4 linked regions of the Homo sapiens genome follow. The protein of the gene in region 2 interacts with the protein of the main gene of each other region in a pairwise test. Each region holds a gene or a part of one and is shown on either strand. Other genes may lie near its edges.

The links. Proteins that work in one complex are often made in the same cells at the same time.
Region 1: the proteins of NME1 (region 2) and TNPO2 interact in binary tests that used the Homo sapiens proteins (3 or more experiments, as listed by UniProt).
Region 3: the proteins of NME1 (region 2) and STRAP interact in binary tests that used the Homo sapiens proteins (3 or more experiments, as listed by UniProt).
Region 4: the proteins of NME1 (region 2) and FXR2 interact in binary tests that used the Homo sapiens proteins (3 or more experiments, as listed by UniProt).

The regions. Positions count from the first base shown.
Region 1 is NC_000019.10:12,713,933-12,717,784, forward strand, and holds part of TNPO2 (transportin-2), read right to left. Parts: intron 1,808-3,852; coding exon 1,701-1,807; intron 1,607-1,700; coding exon 1,473-1,606; intron 1,393-1,472; coding exon 1,311-1,392; intron 1,238-1,310; coding exon 1,115-1,237; intron 1,008-1,114; coding exon 889-1,007; intron 1-888. UniProt on the Homo sapiens protein: Probably functions in nuclear protein import as nuclear transport receptor. Serves as receptor for nuclear localization signals (NLS) in cargo substrates.
Region 2 is NC_000017.11:51,156,559-51,159,613, reverse strand, and holds part of NME1 (nucleoside diphosphate kinase A), read right to left. Parts: intron 1-3,055. UniProt on the Homo sapiens protein: Major role in the synthesis of nucleoside triphosphates other than ATP. The ATP gamma phosphate is transferred to the NDP beta phosphate via a ping-pong mechanism, using a phosphorylated active-site intermediate.
Region 3 is NC_000012.12:15,888,535-15,892,386, reverse strand, and holds part of STRAP (serine-threonine kinase receptor-associated protein), read right to left. Parts: intron 2,460-3,852; coding exon 2,378-2,459; intron 1,791-2,377; coding exon 1,718-1,790; intron 1-1,717. UniProt on the Homo sapiens protein: The SMN complex catalyzes the assembly of small nuclear ribonucleoproteins (snRNPs), the building blocks of the spliceosome, and thereby plays an important role in the splicing of cellular pre-mRNAs.
Region 4 is NC_000017.11:7,608,398-7,612,249, forward strand, and holds part of FXR2 (RNA-binding protein FXR2), read right to left. Parts: intron 2,877-3,852; exon of another isoform or gene 2,784-2,876; intron 1-2,783. UniProt on the Homo sapiens protein: mRNA-binding protein that acts as a regulator of mRNAs translation and/or stability, and which is required for adult hippocampal neurogenesis. Specifically binds to AU-rich elements (AREs) in the 3'-UTR of target mRNAs.

The DNA of each region.
Region 1 (3,852 bases), on a different chromosome or scaffold from region 2:
GGTAGGAGGATTGCTTCAGCTGGGAGGTCAAGGCTGCAGTGAGCCATGATTTTGACACTCCACTCCAGCGTGGATGACAGAGCAAAACCTTGTCTCAAAATAAAAAAGAAAAAAATGATTTGGAGAGAGGCAAGCAATCCAAGTTTGTCAAGGAGGGTCAGTTTTAGGACTTTTGTTGGAAACACTGGTCGAAAATTTCTTTACTCTGAAGTTCCTAAGCTGGAAGGGCACAGAAGGCTACAGCACTACCCAGAGGGAAGGTTGTGCCTAAGAATGAAGCCAACACAAGGGAAGCAGATCTGAGACCACAAAGATGCCTTTCACATCCTTTGAGCTCCTGGATACAGCCATACCCCTGAAGCCTTTGTTGATTTTTCATTTCTTTTTTTTTTTTTTTTGAGACGGAGTTTTGCTCTGTCACCCAGGCTGGAGTGCAGTGGCACGACCTTGGCTCACTACAACCTCAGCCTCCTGGGTTCAAGCAATTCTCCTGCCTCACCCTCCCAAGCAGCTGGGACTACAGGCGCCTGCCACCACGCCCAGCTATTTTTTTATATTTTTAGTAGAAATGGGGTTTCACCGTGTTAGCCAGGCTGGTCTCGATCTTCTGACCTTGTGATCTGCCCGCCTCGGCCTCCCAAAGTGCTAGGATTACAGGTGTCAGCCACCACATGTGGCCATTGATTTTTCATTTCTTTCCACCTATCAGTTACCTAATTTTGAAGTCTTCAAAAAGTGGCATTCTTACCACTTACACATAAATATATACTGAATGTAAACTGACAAGGATGTGGACTGAGAGAAGCACAGCAGGTGACCAGAAGGGAAGGCAGAGGCATAGCAAGGGGTCGAAGCTGGGGTAGGACAGTGGGCAGCAGCAGCACTCACTGGACCAGATGGGAGGCCAGGACTTCCTTGCAGATGGGCTGCTCGGCCAGCGTCAGCCAGAACTCACAGGCCTCAAGGGCAACGTTCTCATCATGGTCCTGGGTCCTCTGCAGCATGTACTGTGGTAGGGGGGAGAAGCTGAGGCCTGGCCTGGCTGGGGGTGGCTCCCTGACCCCTGCCACCGGCCCCCTGCCTGCCCGCCTGGGCTGGCCTTGACCATGCACACCTGGATGATGCTGTGCATGTGGGGGATGAGCCTGTCAATCCGCACTTCCAGAAGCATCACCAGGGCACGGCACACATTCTTCCGCACCTCGGGGTCATCATCCACAGCCAGGGCAAATAGGTGCTGCAGGGAGGAACAGGGTCAGTTGTAGGGGCCCTCAGTCCTCGCCCTGCCCACCCCCAGCCCAGCGGCCCACCTCGATGAAGGTGTCAATATTGTCCATCAGCGCCTGGGCCCGGTCCATGATGAACTGGTTCACGCAGGCGATGGCGTGGGACCTGGCGGGGAGCAGACACGTGGGTCACCCTGACCCTGCCCACTCCAGGCTCCCTGGAAGCCCCCAGGGAGCTGCACCCACCGGATCTTGGGACTGCAGTGCTTGAAGAACTGCAGGAACTTGGGGATCATGATGTTGAGGGGCCTGTTGAGGGCGTCACTGTCCAGAAGCTCTGATGAGTCTTCACAGATCTTCTGCAGGGCTCCAAAGGCTCCCTGAGTGCAGAGGGGCAGAGAGACAAACGTGGGTGGTGGGTGGTGGTCCCAGCCCCCCAGTACTCGCTCTGGCCATCCATGGCTTCTTGCCTACCTCACAAGTGTTGTAATCCTCCGAGTTAAGCAGGTTGCAGAGCTGGGGCAGCAGCTCGGGCCACATCTGCAGCTCACCCTTGGAAGCGATGGTGGTGATGAGAATGCCTGGGGCGGCCGGGAAAGGACGCTGCCTGAGGCTGGGCAGGGGCTGCCTAGCACCTCCCCCTCCCACTGGACACCCCCAGTGCTGCCTTTCTGTTCCCTAGCCCATGTACGCCCTCTACATCCCCCCTCCTTTTTTTTTTCTTTGTAAGAGATAGAATTAGCTCTGTTGCCCAGGCTGGACTGCTGTGGCACAATCAATAGTCCACAGCAGCCTCAAACTCCTGGCCTCAAGCCATCTTCCTGCCTCAGCCTCCTAAGTAGCTGGGACTGCAGGCACATGCCACCACGCCCAACTAATTTTTAAAATTGTTTGTAGAGATGGGATCTCACTATGTTGCCCAGGCTGGCCTAAAACTCCTGGCCTCAAGCAATCCTCCTGCCTTGGCCTCCAAAAGCACTGAGATTACAGGCGTGAGCCACCGCTCCTGGCCTTGACATAGGTAGAAGGGTACTCCTTGACTCAGTAGGCACCCTGAGCCTTACTGTGAGTCAACTCTGTTCCAGGCCCTGAGGCACAGCACAGAGCAAAACACAAAATCCTCACCCTTGGGAGCTGGAAGCAAGCTATGAAGTAAAGATAAATTAGCAAAAAAAACTGGGAGGGGCCGTGCATGGGTGGCTCATGCCTGTAATCCCAGCACTTTGGGGGACCGAGGTGGGTGGATCACTTGAGGTCAGGAGTTCGAAACCAGCCTGGCCAACATGGTGAAACCCCATCTCTACTAAAAATACAAAAATTAGCTGGGTGTGGTGGGGGGCACCAGTAATCCCAGCTACTTGGGAGGCCGAGGCAGGAGAATCACTTGAACCTGGGAGGCAGAGGTTGCAGTGAGCAGAGATCGCGCCACAGCACTCCAGCCTGGGATGGAGCAAGACTCCATTTCAAAAACAAACAAAACAAAAACAAACAACTGGGAGGGGCCACATGCCAAGGACTAAGGGGGGAAATACAGCAGAAAAGATGGTGAGAAAGGGCTGTAGGTGAAGGTAGCAACTTTAAATTGGGTGGCCAGAGCAGGCCTCGTTGAGGTGACATCTTGATATCTGAGCCAAGGCCTGAAGGAGGTGAAGGAGGCGAGGGAGGAATCATCCAGGTTTCTGGGGAAAGGGCATCTGAGGCAGGGGACTCTATGGTGCAAAGGCCTGGCGTAAGGACAGGCATGATGAGAGAGGGAAAGGAGGTAAGGGCAGGAAGGTGGCAGGGATGCTTGTACTGCCTATTAGATATCCAGGAGTTACATACAGCAGGCATCTGAGGTGCCAGGACAGTGCACATATCTGGTGACAGAGCTGGATATGGGTTCTGTTAAGTGCAGAGATGGTATTTGCTGCCATGAGATGGCAGTGTTTCCCAAGGGTGGAAACTCAACGAGAGAAAGGTGCTCCCTGCAATGGGTAGGTACACAGTGAGGATTGTGGAACTTTAGCCACACCCCCTCATTCTGTGTGCCTCAGTGCTTCCAGCCCTCAGAAGAGATAAAGAAAACCAGCCTCCTAACTAAGGTTATCAGTAGGTTTCTTTTTCTCTCTTTTTTTTTTTTTTTTTTTTTGAGATGGAGTCTCACTCTGTAGTCCAGGCTGGAGTGCAGTGGCACAATCTTGGCTCACTGCAACCTCCACCTCCCGAGTTCAGGTAATTCCCCTGCCTCAGCCTCTGAAGCAGCTGGGATTACAGGTGCCCGCTGCCACACTCAGCAAATTTTTGTATTTTTAGTAGAGATAGAGTTTCACCATGTTGGCCAGGCTGGTCTCGAACTCCTGACCTCAGGTGATCCACCTGCCTCAGCCTCCCAAGGTGCTGGGATTAGAGGCGTGAGCCACTGTGCTCAGCCTGGATCAGTAAGTTTCAATGACTTAGCAAAGAGCCTGGCACATAGAATGAGCTCAGGAAGTCCACATCCTACTACTGGCCTGGGAGGGGGTTTTTGCAGGACTAAAAGTTACTTTTTATTTTTGAGATGGAATCTCAGTCTGTTGCCCAGGATAGAGTACAGTGGCATTATCTTGGCTTACTGCAACCTCTGCCTCCCGGGCTCAAGCAATTC
Region 2 (3,055 bases):
ATTTATTTATTTATTTTGAGACAGAGTCTCCCTCTGTCACCCAGGCTGGAGTGCAGTGGCGTGATCCTGACTTACTGCAACCTCCACCTCCTGGGTTCAAGTGATTCTCCTGCCTCAGCCTCCCAAGTAGCTGGGATTACAGGTGGCGGCCATCATGCCTGGCCAATTTTTGTATTTTTAGTAGAAACAGGGTTTCGCCATGTTGGCCAGGCTGGTCTCAGGTGACCGCAGGTGATCTGCCTGCCTTGGCCTCCCAAAGGGCCGGGACTACGGGCGTAAGCCACCGCGCCCAGCCATACCTGGCTAATTTTAAAAAATTATTTGTAGAGATAGGGTCTCACTATGTTGCCCAGGCTGGTCTCAAACTCCTGGACTCAAGTGATCCTCCAGCCTCCGCCTCCCAAAGTGCTGGGCTTACAGGCGTGACCCACCATGCCTGGCCCTCAACTATCTCATTTTAGACAGGAAAATCAACAATACAATAAATTTCCATTCCCAGAGCAAACCCCAAATAAAATGTTAGAAGGACACCAGGAAGCAAGTCTTGGCATTTAATGAGCAGCAAACTAAACCAGGCCATTACCCAGGGATGCTTCACGTTTATTCAGAGGATAAAAGCCCAGCAGTGATGACCATGTGATTACCAAAGGTATCTGCAAATCACCCAAAAGTGCATGACATCTAGTAATAAATAATTTTGCTGAAAAATGAATTAGAACCTCTCATACTGCAAGGCTAATATGTGGGAACGAATCAAGTTAGCTAGAGAACAAACCATCTGCTTAGCAGTTTCAACTCAGTTTGGCTGTGTTCTCTCTTGTACTGCATATACGCTTGTTAAAATCTAACAGGGTCCCATGGTTTTTCCAGCTCTGTGGTACTGCACTGTATGACGCATATCACACACATCAGAGACACACACAGATGTGGAGACTGGCTGCCCAGAAGCCCCATCATTCAGCCACCAGTTATCATCACTTGCCAAAGTAAAATTACATGGCCATATAATCACTCCGTGGTAGGGATCCAACCCTCGCCCTGTCCTTTCCTATCCAAATGGAAGACTTTTGTTGTGGAAGTCTAACAGACCCTGAGGTGACCTTCCCTTATCAGAATACTTTTTTAATTCTATTAATTGGTTCCAATTATCTTTTTGTTGGTTTTGTTGTTTGTTTTGAGACAGGGTCTTTCTGTCACCCAGGCTGGAGTGCAATGGCATGATCATAGCTCACTGCGGCCTCAAACTCCCAGGCTCAAGCAATCCTCTTGCCTCAGATTCTCAGTAGCTAGGACTACAGGTGTGCACCACTACACCCGGCTAATTATCTTTTTTTGAGACAGGGTCTTGCTCTGTTACCCAGGCTGGAGTGCAGTGGCTCGATCTCCGCTCACTGCAACCTCCACCTCCCGAGTTCAAGCCATCCTCTCGCCTCAGCCTCCCTGGTAGCTGGGACTACAGGCATGCGCCATCACACCCAGCTAAATTTTGTATTTTTAGTAGAGACGGGGTTTCACCACGTTGGCCAGGCTGGTCTCCATCTCCTGACCTCAGATGATCCACCCACCTTGACCTCCCAAAATGCTGGGATTACAGGTGTGAGCCACCACGCCAGGCCCTAACTGATTATCTTTAGTCTGCAAAACAGATCACGGGCTTTTTTTAAGGGCTTGGGGGTTGGGAACCTCAAGTTCTCCCTTGCTTCCTGCCTCCACACCAGATTTAAATGCCCCTTTAGAGTCATGGCAGCTATCCTTCCGTCCATTCTTCACCAAACCCATATATCCTTAATAGGAAATTCAATGTAAAGGAGAAAGTATCTGCACTCAGGGGTCAGAGAGACTCAAGTTAAAATTCCAGTGGCATCACTGTATGCTATCAGGCACATCACTGAACCTCTCCAAGCCTTAGGTTGCTCATCACTAACAACCACGAGAACAGGAGTAAGTACTTCTCAAGGCTGGCATGAAGACTAAATCAGAAAACATATGTGCCCAGCATATGGTAAATGCCTGATCAACAACACATCCATCTCATGTTACCTTCTGCTGTGATCTGAATGTGTCCCCCAAAGTTCGTATGTTGGAAATTTAATCCTCGATGCAACAATGTTGGGAGGTGAGGCCTAATGGGAGGTGTTTAGGTCATGAGGGCTTCACCCTCATGAACAGATTAATGTCTTATCTCAGGAGTGGGTTTGTTATAAAATCAACATCAGCCCCCTCTTGCTCTCTCTCACTCTTGCACTCTCTTGCTATTCCATTCTGTCATGGGATGATACAGCAAGAAAACCTTCATTAGATGCCAGCTCCTTGACCTTGGACACCATATTCTCCTCTCAGCATGAACATCAGTCTACCCTCTTTTACATTAAAGCAGTTTTTCTTTTCTTTTTTTTCTTTTTTTTTGGAGACGGAGCCTCCCAAAGTGCTGGGATGACAGGCGAGTCACTGTGCCAGCCCTAAAGCAGTTTTTCTAAAATATCACATAGGAAGTAAATTGCAAGTCAAACTAAATTTTAAAATGCACTAGAAGGGTCCAAAATTGATTCCCTTTTAGAAAACATACTATCCCCTATTTGATTTGAGAATTGGAATTCTTTTTTTTTTTTTGAGACAGAGTCTCCCTCCCTCTGTTGCCCAGGCTGCAGTGTGGTGCAATATCGGCTCACTGAAACCTCCGCCTCCTGGGTTCAAAAGCAATTCTTTTTTTTTTTTTTTTTTGGAGATGGAGTTTTGCTCTTGTTGCACAGGCTGGAGTGCAATGATGCGATCTCGGTCACTGCAACCTCCACCTCCCCAGTTCAAGCGATTCTCCTGTCTCAGCCTCCCGAGTAGCTGGGATTACAGGCGCATGCCACCACGCCTGGCTAATTTTTGTATTTTTAGTAGAGACGGGGTTTCATCATATTGGTCAGGCTGTCTCGAACTCCTGACCTCAGGTGATCCGCCCGCCTCAGCCTCCCAAAATGCTAGGATTACAGGTATGAGCCACCGCACCTGGCTGGTTCAAGCAATTCTTATGTCTCAGCCTGCCGAATAGCTGGGATTACAGGCA
Region 3 (3,852 bases), on a different chromosome or scaffold from region 2:
GTAGACTGGGGAAGACACCTATAACTTCTGTAAAATGAGAGAATGCATAAAGAATTTCACCACCAAAATGTTAAAAACATATATACCATAAAACCACCTTAACAAAATTTAAAAGCAAATGATAAATTAGAATTCAATAAAGAACCTTTAAAAACCAGTAAGAAAAACATGAATAACACAACAGATAAATGGACAAAAGGTAGACAGGCAATTATTCCATAAAAAAGGGAATATATTAAAATGGTATTCAATAGCATTTTAATCTCATGAATATTCACATTAATACAACAGAATTATTTTCTTAAATTGACAAAGAGAAAGTTAGTTATCAGTGCTCACTAGAACATGTTGGGTATAGATACATACATATATACCCATACTTTGTTGGAAGACACTTTGGTAGTATCTATCAATGGCTTCCAACAATTCATTTTTTTTTTTTCTTTTTGAGAAGGAGTTTTGCTCTTGTCCCCCAGGCTGGTATGCAATCTCGGCTCACTGCAACCTCTACCTCCCGGGTTCAAGCGATTCTCCTGCCTCACCCTCCTGAGTACCTGGGAATTACAGGCGCCTGCCACCATGCCCAGCTAATTTTTTTGTACTTTTAGTAGAGATGGGGTTTCACCATGTTGGCCAGGCTGGTATTGAACTCCTGACCTCAGGTGATCCACTCACCTTGGCCTCCCAAAGCACTGGGATTACAGGCGTGAGCCACTGCGCCCGGCCACCTTCCAACAATTCCACTCCTCTTTGTCCCACCAATTCTACTTTTGCTTAGTTATCTTAAGGAAATCATTGTGAAAATATTTGCAACTGTAAGGATGTTTAGCATAATACTGCTTTTCATATTTAAAATCTGTAAGTAGCCCAAACGGGCCAAAACAGGAAACTAGTTAATTCACTTATGATATAACCACAGGATGGAAAACCAGAAAGTCATTACAAACAGTTCATAGACTATTTAGTGAAATGAAAAAACTGTAACTGCAGATTTTTTAAAATTCTTTCGAATAGCTAATATATTTACATGGTTCAAAAATCTAAGCAATATGTGCACACAACTGAGAATTCTCACCATCACCAACTTCTATAAATAACCAATCTTTCTTACCAAAAAATAGTAACACTGTTCTGCACTGTTTTAAAACTTAATGATAAAAATTTGCCATAATAAATTTTCAGTTTGGAAGAAGGTTATACAATAGCAACATAGCAAATAAACTTATTTTTTAAAAACTGTGCAGAAAAAAAGACTGAAAGTTTATAAACCAAAAACTGATGAATTACGTTTTAATTTTCTTCTTTGTTGACTATTTTTTTTTTTTTGAAACTGAGTTTCACTCTTATTGCCCAGGCTGGAGTGCAGTGGCGCAATCTCGGCTCACTGCAACCTCCACCTCCCGGGTTCAAGCGATTCTCCTGCCTCAGCCTCCCAAGTAGCTGGGATTACAAGCGCCTGCCACCATGCCTGGCTAATTTTTCTATTTTTAATAGAGACGGGGTTTTGCCATGTTGGCCAGGCTGGTCTCGAACTCCTGACCTCAAGTGATCCACCCGCCTCAGTCTCCCAAAGTGCTAGGATTACAGGTATGAGCCACCGTGCCCGGCCATGACTATCTTTATTTTCCAAATTTGAGTACTGAGCATGAAATTCTTTAATCAGTTATTTAAATTAAAAGAAAATAAAACTAGAAGCTGATGTTTAAATTATGCTTACCTGCTTCAGGTTTGTTCAAGTCATATATGCGTAACAGTTTATCCTGTCCCCCGGTTAACAAATAATTACTATCCTGAAAACACAAAGTAAAATGTGAATAGATTAACCATTTTAATAGTTATTTCTCTTTCAAATTTCAACACCAAATAAAATCAAAATCTAGCTCACAGACATCACAAAGAGATGCCAAGACATAACCAATTACTTCTGAGAAGATACTGTGGAACAGCTGACCTCTCATAACTGCCAAGACTTGTAAGCTTTCCACTTCAAAAGCGTTACACTACACTACATATACATGAACTCTCCCATTCTCCCCTGATCCTACTCCTCTCCCTTGTGAGAGGCCCTTTTCTGATTATCTCAAATTTATCTTCTCCCTTCTATTAGTAGTTGGGGAAGGCTACTTGAGCTTTTCAGATGTTTTTTACATGTTGAAGGACTGGTACTCGTTCCACAGTATCTTAAAAGCTTGACAGGATTAACTATGAAACAAATTCATAGAGCTTAATACACAATCAAATCAAATATGAACCAAGAAATAACAAATATTCCACACAAAACATATCAATCAAATATACACACCAATCAAGTATAAAAGCATTATCACACTATGTACCAGCAACTTAACTCGCTAAAATAAATTCCATTTTCTGATACCTGCGTGAAATCCACAGTCTTGACAATGTGTTTATGAGCCAGGGTCATCAATTCATCTCCTGAGACAGCATCCCACACTTTGCTAAAAGTAAAAAAGAGAAAATTAGTAGGATAAATATTACCCAATATATTAAAAGGATAAATACAATTATAATATTGATGAGTACCAAATAAGTTAGATATGTGAAATGTTACATAAATGTATTATAAATCTCCTTTATCTCTAATATCCCTCACAGACTTCATTTGATAAAATATTTAAATAAGCTTAAGGGAAAAGAAATTTCTCTGTAAAAACTTTATAACCAATCTAATTTTCTTTGACAGTGGAAAAGATATGAACAATTTAAGCAAGTAAGATTCATGAACCAACCCATCCTCCTTACTTTTATTTTAGCTGACAGCCATAATATCCCTTTAGCAAGCCTGTCATACATTTTAACCAATTTTTAGTTTCACCATGCCAATTTTTTCTCTATTCTCCACTCAGATGCACAATAAAAAATAAAAATAAATAAAAAAACCAGAAATCCTTAAAAATGTTACAAGGGAATGAAAAGCCTTGGTACAGGCTAAGTAAAATTTTAAATTAAGATAGTGGAGAGACAATGTCCACTTCATCTCTTCTTCAAAGCTGACTTAAAATTTCAAACTCTAGTACAGTTAACTTCCCCCAAACTATCAGCCTTTGATTATATAATGCTAACACTGACTATTTTAATCTTTACATTGTTTTTTCTGTCCCACCCCACCCCAAAATACAAGTTGGTTATAGGTATACATACATTTATATGTGTATGTATATTCTGGGCGGGTAATAGTTGAGCAATACTTTACAAAATTACTCTAAAAGGGTTCCCCCAAATAAAAAAGCTTAAGGAAGGGGGAAAAAAAAGTTGATTTTAGATCAGAACAGGTCAGTGAAAAATAAACAAGAAAACTTTGCAGACAGGGAAAAGAATTGCTAAGAGTGAAAAAGCTATGTTCCATAGAGATTTCCATTTTAATGCAACTGCTATTTATTTTCAGGAACACAGTGGGCAATAAAATGGTAGAGGGAAAAAAATCAGAGAAAAGCAAGATGTATCTTTTCTTTTGCTTACCCCAATACATAATAAAATATATTAAATATATATCATTCTATACTTAGTGCTAAGGCACAAATGGGAGACAAAAAATACCCCACAGTAGGTTCTTGCCATAGTAGAGCTTTAGCTGAGGAGAAAAACATGCATTAAATATCACATTTAAGAAATATAATTAAAAGACATATATATGGCTATAAAAACTCAGAAAAAAGCACCTAGATATTGTCCAGAAAATGTAAGTAACAGAGCTAGCCGTCGGAAGAAGCAAAGAGAAATATATCAGGGGAAAAAGAAGGGAAGGCTATTCTAGATAAGCATTAATAGCATGTGCAATGTGGTTAATGAATATGAAAGACCATCTAACAGGAATGCTCATGATACACTACC
Region 4 (3,852 bases), about 44 Mb from region 2:
TCTGGCCAATATGGCAAAATCCCATTGCTACTAAAAAAAAAAAAAAATAATAATAATAATAATATATAAATTAGCCAGGCGTGGTGGCACATGGCTGTAACCTCAGTTATTCAGGGTGGCTGAGGCATGAAAATCACTTGAAGCCAGGAGTTAGAGACTGCAGTCAGTCAAGATCATGCCATCGCACTGCAGCCTGGACAACAGGGCAAACTCTGCCTCAAAAAAAAAAAAAGAAGAAAAGAAGAAAAGAAAAGACAAGACTATCCTTTCTTAGCTGAATTGAACTGCCTTTTCATTTCTATCGAAAATCAGGAAGGGCAATTTAATGTATAATGACAGAAGATTGGTAGTTGATGGAGGACTTTTGGGAGTGACAGAAATGTTCATTCCTTTGATTGCAGTGATGGACTCAGTTACATACATGTCAAAACTTAACAAATGGCACACTTTAAATATGTCTACTTTGTTGTATGTCAATTTCAGCTCAATAAAGATGTTTTTTAAAAAAATTAGAGAGCCCATACAACACAGGGAAACCTCATCTCTGCAAAAAATTTATAAATTAGCAGGGTATGATGGCTTGTGCCTGTAGTCCCAGCTATTTAGGAGGCTAAGGTGGGAGGATCACTTGAGCCAGGGAGGTCGAGGCTGTGATGAGCTGTGATTGCACCACTGCACTCCATAGCTTGGGCAACACAGCAAGACCGTGACTCAAAAAACAAAATAAATAAACAAAAATAAAAGAATTAGAGGTTTCAAAAGGCTAATACACAAGAACTATTCATGAGCTTTGCTGCTAGGGACAAAGGCTAAGCTTAGGAGAGAAAACACCAAAAATGCCCTTGGCAAATGCACAGCTCCCACCTCATAGAACTAATCAATCACAAACACTTACCAGATTGCTATTTCCTTACGATGGGAAAATCTAAGCCTGCATTTCACTCTTCATACAAGCCACCTTTCTCGTCTTTAGGGATATGTCTTGCTATAGAGGCTGCAGTCAGTCAAGATCATTCTTGACTGAATGTTCTTTCTTAGAGCCTTACTACTGCCCAAGGCTTTAATTACTACTGGTACTTCCTGGCCTCTTTTTTACCCATGCTTTTTCTTTCTCTGACATTCTCTTCTCCAGAAATGTTTTTTCTACTCTTCATTCAGATTTTTTTCCTTTTTCAAAAAGAACCTGAGTTATGAGCATGTTCATTCAGGTTTAATGCCAACTCCTACTGTTCTCCATTCAAGTCTTCTGAGGCACTTTTACTTCTACTTGCCTGGGTCTCTCTTCCCTTTTGGGTTCTTCCCTTAGCTCCTGCTCAAGTGTCCTCCCCACTCCCACAACCACTAATATTTTATCCATTCCCTCTTCTTTTCCCTGTAATCCCAACACTTGGAGGCCGAGGTCGGTAGATCAGCTGAGGCCAGGAGTTCGAGACCAGTCTGGCCAATATGGCAAAACCCCATTGCTACTATATATATATGTATACATATACATATATATACACATACATATATATGTATATATACATGTATATGTATATATATACATGTATATGTATACATATATATACATGTATATGTATACATATATATATACATGTATATGTATACATATATATATACATGTATATGTATACATGTATGTATATATATACACACACACACACACACATATATATAAATTAGCCAGGCGTGGTGGCACATGGCTGTAACCTCAGCTATTCAGGGTGGCTGAGATATGAGAATCACTTGAAGCCAGGAGGCAGAGGCTGCAGGGTCGTCTGGATTTCTAGAATTATTCCAACCAGCCTCTTCCGCTGACTTTATCCAGTTCTTTACCCAAAATGTCTACTCCAAGCCTTAGAAGTAGTTTATCAAGGCAGGAGTTACACTGACAGAAAGAAGTGGAAAAGAGACAGAGATGAGAATCACTAATTTACTGCTTTTGTGGAGAGATTTCTACTCCTAGATATATTCAAATCGGCTATGCCTATGGTGTAATCCAATTCTCCTCCACCATGTTAGGCTTGGCCCCAGGGTGAGCAGCAATATTACCCTAGTTTTCCCAGCTACCATGACTTCCAAGGCAGAAATGCAAAGCTCAGAATGGAGTAATCTCTCACATTACTCAGCAGTTCAACCAAATCTCACTCAACCCTTATATTTCCAGGGTCTTTTTCCTTCAATTAGTCTCCAAAACTAGCTCTGTCCCCAACTTCATATTCCAATCCTGTCTCTGCTCCTAAATTCCACCCATTCATCCCATACTAGTTTTTTTCTCCAAGGGTATCTGTGGTGGAAGTGAGCCCCAAGTTCTGCTCAGTCTACGCTCATTGTGAAAATAAGCAGGTGAAGGCAAGAGCAGGTGGGTGGAATGTATTAGGGAGCCACCTAGATCCAGAGGATAACTTGATTCAGTGGCCATAGCATCACCTGGCTTTGGCTTCTGGAGCCTGGCACCAAGCCAGCAGAGGAAGAGAGAGCCCCAGGTTCCTAGGTACTTTGGTTTCCTCAAATTAGAAGATATAAAATTGGTCCCCACCTTCACCGTCTTCTAGTTCTAGACTCCCAAAGCAAAGGAGGGGGTTCTAGGAGAAGAGCAGGAACAGTCTGAGTAAAAACCAAGTACTGAAGCTGAGGATGCCATGTTGATTAAGAAAGGAATGGGGATTAGGATATCCAGATGAGGTTTGGAGTAGGAAGATTGCGCCCTGGACGGTGAATACTTCATTTGGGAGAGTACAACTTAAAGAATAAAATACATTAGGCCATTTTGTACGTCTTAAGCCATTTTGTACGTCTTAAGCATGATGACTGCGGTTTCAAGCTCACGGTGAGGTATGCCTCCCTCAACCCTTGTTACGGATGCCAGTCTGACATGAAAAAAAAAAGGACGGAAAAAAAGAGTAAATTCTGACAAACTTAATTTTCAGATAGCTACAAAATAACTTAGATCCCAGATCTAATATTTTATCCTTTAAGAAAACTGACGGGAGGGCGTGGTGGCTCACGCCTGTAATCCCAGCACCTTGGGAGGCCAAGGCGGGCGAATCTCTTGAAGTCAGGAGTCAGAAACCAGCCTGGCCAACATAGCGAAACCCCGTCTCTACTGAAAATACAAAAATTAGCCAGGCATGGTGTTGCACACCTGTAATCCCAGCTACTCGGGAGGCTGAGGCACAAGAATCACTTGAACCTGGGAGGCGGAGGCTGCAGTGAGACGACATCACGCCACTGTACTCCAGCCTGGATGACAGAGGGAGACCCTGTCTCAAATAAAAAAAAAAGGAAAAGAAAGAAAAGAAAACTGACAACAGGGCCCAATTCTGAGAGAGGAGAAAGGGACCTTCCCAAATGTACAATTCCAGAAGCAGTGTAAATACTCCCTGACCCATCCCAAGTTTGCTGAGTCATGAATATTAAATCAGCAGCAAGGTCAAAACGGATAAGTATCTGTAGGGTACTGAGAGTGGAAGATTAGCCTGAATTTAGGGATTTGTGGTTTTTAACTCAGGAACAGGGCAGAAAATGCTAACCTGCCCAGATCCACATTACCACATTACCTGGCTTTCAGCTCAACCCCAAACTCTACTCTCTGAATCACAGTATCCTGGTCCCCATCTATTCAAGTCTATCACTGCCACAGCACACAGGAGAAAGGGAAAAGATTCAGAGAGACTTTCTGCTGGACACTTATATGTGGGACAGAAAACGTGTCCCTTCCCAGCCATCTCATACAGTTCATTTGAACTGGATACCAATCTTTCTCAGCTGTGCAGGGCTCCTACGCTTCCTAGAACAAAGCAAACATCATATCTTGATCTTGGACTCAACTTAAGAATCACTTTTCTTGGA